Regions from separate parts of the Homo sapiens genome. Here region 1 is linked to region 2. Evidence: fine-mapped expression QTL. Tissue or cell type: tibial artery. Region 2 holds a variant in brackets; the other region holds the start of a gene. All regions are shown on one strand. Distances are between the middles of the regions.

What was found. PIP is the estimated chance that this variant, and not a neighbour inherited with it, causes the effect.
Region 1: it holds the start of NEURL1, and the variant in region 2 is fine-mapped to the expression of NEURL1 in tibial artery (GTEx, PIP 0.90).

Annotation. Positions count from the first base shown.
Region 1 is chr10:103,492,378-103,494,992 of GRCh38, forward strand. NEURL1 (neuralized E3 ubiquitin protein ligase 1) reads left to right here and starts at 1,328. Exons shown (of 6, transcript NM_004210.5): 1 at 1,328-2,095. The coding sequence starts at 2,011. It overlaps NEURL1-AS1 (NEURL1 antisense RNA 1), which reads right to left. Exons shown (of 4, transcript NR_120675.1): 3 at 2,184-2,358. RefSeq lists silencers at 1,537-1,686, 1,697-1,826, 1,907-2,006 and an enhancer at 1,673-2,222.
Region 2 is chr10:103,583,924-103,586,678 of GRCh38, forward strand. It overlaps NEURL1 (neuralized E3 ubiquitin protein ligase 1), which reads left to right. Exons shown (of 6, transcript NM_004210.5): 4 at 613-1,302. Among named protein-coding and RNA genes, the nearest start is that of NEURL1-AS1, 68 kb to the left of the region's middle. RefSeq lists a silencer at 491-550. The variant C/A (reference allele first, on the strand shown) is at 1,521.

The sequences.
Region 1 (2,615 bases), 92 kb before region 2:
GAGAGTAGGAGAGGAAAATAAAGGGTGGTTCAGGAGGCTCTGCCCCCAGGGATCTCAGTGGAGCCTCCTGGCCCACAGTGGGAAGCATGCATTCCACAATTATTTTCTGAGAATCTGTCACATGCCAGGCATTCCCCCAGTGGGTAAGGACACCCTGGTGAACACGACTGACCTGTGCTCTCCCCTCACAGAGCTTATGTTCTAGCAGGGAGGCAGAAGATAAACGAGGAAAGGCTACTTGTAAACAAGTTCCATATAAAAGCTATGATGAAAATAAAATGGAATATTGTGGAAAGTGACTGACAGTGGAGGGGGTCCTTTAGTTGGGGCAGTCAGGGAATGTCAGGACACGAATTGTGCCTAGATAATGAGGAGCTGCCAAATGGAGACTTGGGGGAAGAACCTTTATTACAGAAAAGGATACATGAGATGTCCCCCTGCCCACCCATGTCTTCACTGGACTCTGGATCTGAGTTGCTGAAGCCAGAGCAGGGAGCTAGAGATGACTTAGAGGAGCAGGAAGTCTGATTCCCTGGGGGGAACCTTGGAACATCTTCCATCCCTGATAGACCAGGAGAGATGCCCCGGGTCCAGGAAGGAGAAGAATGACTTCTGTTTCCCTTCCTGAAGGCTTCTTGGTGCAGTGTTGAGCTACAGGAAGGCACTAGCCACATGAGCAGGGCCCTTGCTGAAACCCCCTTCCTCCAGGAAGCCTTCTTTGACTGCCATAGGCTGCAGAGGCTCCTCTCCCCCACCTTGTTATAGCTAACAGAACCACTCAGTTCAGAGCTGGTGGTCTTCTGATGATCTGTCCCGGAGATCTGTTCCCTCAGCTTGGCCAGAGCTCCAGGCTTGTGAGTCTGGTCCGCGGGCATTCAAAGGCCCTCAGTGGCATCTGTGCATCAGTGAGACTGCCCGGGGTTCCTGCTCTGAACCCTTGCCCTAGTGCCCCTAGCCTGGCTGAGAACGGAGGGTCAAGTGCCGGGGTTCTAATCTCAATTACTTTATCCAAGCATCCGCTCGCTCATTTACATGTTTCCCTGGGCTCTCCACTCTGCGCCAGGCCCGGTACCTGGAGCTAGGGAAACCGAACATTAGTGCTGGCTCGCCCGCCCCCGCATCCGGGGAGCTCGGCGTTCTCGCGGCCCTGCTCCCCTTGTTTTCAAGTGCAAGTTCCATGTTTCCGTGCTGGGAATAAGGCCAGCCCCGGGTGCCACCATACTCGCCTGATGTCTTACCCCGACCCGCGCCGCCGAGAGCTTGCGGCTACGGGAACGCGGCGCGCCCCGGGGCCACATCTGGCCTAGCGGGCGCGCGCGTGTCACTAAGACGCTCATTCACCGGCGCAGCTGTCACCATAACAACCGGAGCGAGGGAATCCTGGAGACTGCCGGGGCGGGGGGCGGGGGCGGCGGTCGCAGGAGGGACCCGGCGCGGGCGGGACCGCGGCGGTCGGGGGACACCAGCTGCGTCGGAGCGCCCAGAACGCCCCGCGCTCCGCCGAGCCCCGCTCCACGCAGACCCGCGGGCGGGAGGGAGCCACGCACATCGCCGCCGCGGCCGTCTCCGCGGGGCGGTAACCGAGCCTGCCTCGGAGCCGCCGAACGCCCACGCCAGCGACCCTGACTCTATGGCCCCGGGGGAGCGCGCCGGAGCCGCCGCGCCGCCCACCCCCAGCCGGAACCCTAGCGTCCCGGGGAGCAAGCGGGGAGCCCCGGGCGTCCCCGGCCCCGGCCCAGGGCCCTGCTTGTGGCCCCCGCTCCCGCCACGGGGCATGGGAGGCAGGTAGCCCAGCCTGCGCCAGGACACCCGTGGCGGGCGGAACCCGCCAAGGACCGCGAAGTCCAGAGAAAGGAAGCTGAGGAGCTGCCCGCCCGCCCCCGGCTGCAGCCCCAGCAGGGCCCTCCCCCGGTGGCGCGCACCCGCGCGCGCACACTCGCACACCGCACCTCAGCGCCTGCCCGGCCTCGCCCCCACCCGCGAGCGCCGAACCTCCTGGGGCCGGATGCCATGGGTAACAACTTCTCCAGTATCCCCTCGCTGCCCCGAGGAAACCCGAGCCGCGCGCCGCGGGGCCACCCCCAGAACCTCAAAGGTAGGCTCCCCGGCCGAGCGCTGCTGGAGGACTGGGGCGCAGGTGGAGGGCCAGGGAGGTGTGGTTGGGGAGGGCGGGCAGACGCCACCTGTTGTGCGTGTCTGGAGGCCGGAGATGCACCTCTGGCCGTGGAGTGGGCTGGGGGTGGAGGGCAGCCGGCGATGATGGTGATGGAGGATGGCGTCCCGCGGGGTCTGCGCAGTTCTGTCTGCTGGCACTGGGAACGTCACTGGAGTCCCCTCAGGCCATGGTCTTAGGCGAGCCTGAAGAGATGGGAAAGGATGTTTGCCAGGTCGATAGGGGAGTGGGGAGTGAGGAGGGAAGCTTGGGTCGTCCGTGTCTCCAGGGAGGCACCTCGATGGGTCTCCTTTCCATCGGCCCTAGGGCTGGAGAGACCAGGCTGGGAGCACTAGTTGCATTTCCAATGGGAGGGTTTTAAAAATTCAGGACAGGATTACAGCAGCCTGGAAGAAAGGGTCAGAGCTGCTGGTTCCTGGGGTCCTTTGCAGCCGTTGGGTTT
Region 2 (2,755 bases):
GTTTGATTCCCTGTTAAGCCACTTTCAAAAGGGTATCTTGGATAGATCTACTTCTCAGCCTGTGTCCTGACATGGCAATGGTAGCCTCAAAAGGTGATTGTTAAGGTTAGATGAGACAATGTACGCAAAGAGGGTGTCTGTGTGTTTGCTGGGGGGTGGTTGCTCCCTGGCTTTCCAGGATGTTAGGCCTTCGTCAGTGCACTCGACAGACGGTTACTGTTTGTCAACAGAATGCTTGGCGCTGTTCTAGCTGCTAGGGATAAGACGGAAGGAGCCCAGGAGTTAAATTTTTGAAAATTTTAAATTATGAGGAATACAAGTTTACTGTAGAAAATGAGGAAGTACACATATGCATATAGCAAGCACCTGTGAGCATTTGGAAGCATCCACATGGTTTCAGTTTCGGTGCTTCCCCCCACCTATTCCTCTGCTTAAACAGATGTCCTGCAAGAGTCGTTTCTTGACTGTGTTCGCTAATTTATGTCACAAGCATCGTGTGCGCCATTAGCCATCCGGGATTGTAACGGTGCGCGCGTAGGGACCGGACAGCGGGGCGCGCCGGGGCCGCCTCCCGAGAGCCCTGCGTGACACTGCCCCGTGTCTCCCGCGCAGATAGCGAGCTGGTGCTCCCGGACTGTCTGCGGCCGCGCTCCTTCACCGCCCTGCGGCGGCCGTCGCTGCGGCGCGAGGCGGACGACGCGCGCCTCTCGGTGAGCCTATGCGACCTCAACGTGCCGGGCGCGGACGGCGACGAGGCCGCGCCGGCCGCCGGCTGCCCCATCCCGCAGAACTCACTCAACTCGCAGCACAGCCGCGCGCTGCCGGCGCAGCTCGACGGCGACCTGCGTTTCCACGCCCTGCGCGCCGGCGCGCACGTCCGCATCCTCGACGAGCAGACGGTGGCGCGCGTGGAGCACGGGCGCGACGAGCGCGCGCTCGTCTTCACCAGCCGGCCCGTGCGCGTGGCCGAGACCATCTTCGTCAAGGTCACGCGCTCGGGTGGCGCGCGGCCCGGCGCGCTGTCGTTCGGCGTCACCACGTGCGACCCCGGCACGCTGCGGCCGGCCGACCTGCCTTTCAGCCCTGAGGCCCTGGTGGACCGCAAGGAATTCTGGGCCGTGTGCCGCGTGCCCGGGCCCCTGCACAGCGGCGACATCCTGGGCCTGGTGGTCAACGCCGACGGCGAGCTGCACCTCAGCCACAATGGCGCGGCCGCCGGCATGCAGCTGTGCGTGGACGCCTCGCAGCCGCTTTGGATGCTCTTCGGCCTGCACGGGACCATCACGCAGATCCGCATCCTCGGTGAGTGCCCGCAGCTGCGCCTGGGCGTATGCCTTTCCTGGAGGCGGGGACGATCCGGGTAGGAGACAAAGGGCGAGCTCCCCTTCCTCCAGGCTCATGATGGTGTTGCTAAGGAATCACAGACACCTAAGGTGAGTTCTGGGCGGGACTTGGTCATCTTGTCAGTGGCCCTTATATGTCACCTGGGAGACTCACCTGGGGGGTGAGGCGAGGGAAAG[C/A]GCGGATTATTGAGTTTGATGCCCAGAATCAGATCAACCCATAGTCTCACAGATACATAAACAGTCCAGAAGCACACAACCCACTGACCACTCAAAAATGAGAGGAAAAGGCCAGGTGCGGTGGCTCACGCCTGTAATCTCAGCATTTTGGGAGGCCGAGGCGGGCGAATCATGAGGTCAGGAGATCAAGACCATCCTGGCTAACACGGTGAAACCCCGTCTCTACTAAAAATACAAACAATTAGCGGGGCATGGTGGTGGGCGCCTGTAGTCCCAGCTACTCGGGAGGCTGAGGCAGGAGAATGGCTGAGCCCAGGAGGCGGAGCTTGCAGTGAGCCAAGATCGTGCCACTGCACTCCAGCCTGGGCGACAGAGTGAGACTCCGTCTCAAAAAAAAAAAAAAAAAAAGGTTTCCCCCAGCAGTTAACTTTTTGAGTCTCGGTTACCATTTCTCCAAAATGGAAATAAAGGTCCTCACCTTTAAGGAAGTTTGTGAGTCCAAATGAGAAAAAAAGGTTGGAATGTCAGTAGTCAGGTGGTGCAGGGTGGTGTCTGGTTGGGGGACTCGGGGGAATCCCTGAGCAGGCAGCCTTGGGGGAAGTGGGGCTGCAGAGTTCTGGGCCTGCCTTTTCTCGGGGGCACAGGGTTTGAAAGGACTGGGGGGATGTGCATTGAGTTAAGAAAAGAAGGGAGGAAGATTCTTTATTGGAAGACTTCTCAGAGCCTTTAATATGCACTTTGATTAAGGAGACGGTGATGGTGGTTTTGGTGTAGAGTTTTTCCATACTAATTTGACCGGAAATCTTTTCACAAAGTGTCTCCTGGTACCTTTGTACCCCAGAGTGAGCAGGTATTCATGCTTTCCAAGTGCCGGTCTTTGAACCAGCTCTGTGAGACTGAGCTGGTTTCGTTAGATTTACCTGGAGGACCTATTAAAGTGCAGATTCTTGGACCCCCCCTCCAGAGATTTTAATTCGGTAGACCTTGGACAGGTTCTGGACATCTGAATTGTTTTTCTTTAGTAAGTATGCTTACCCAAGTTTGGAGACCCCTGGGCCTCACAGCCCCTAGCCTAGACCTCAGCCCAGGAGGCTTGATAGATAAGATAATGTGTGTAGATGAGTGAGCATGAGGTAGTTACTCTATGAGATTGGCGTACTGTGTATAGGCACATGTGAGTAACTGAATACACATATGTTAATGCATGTAATGCTGTTGGCTTGTGAGAGCATGAG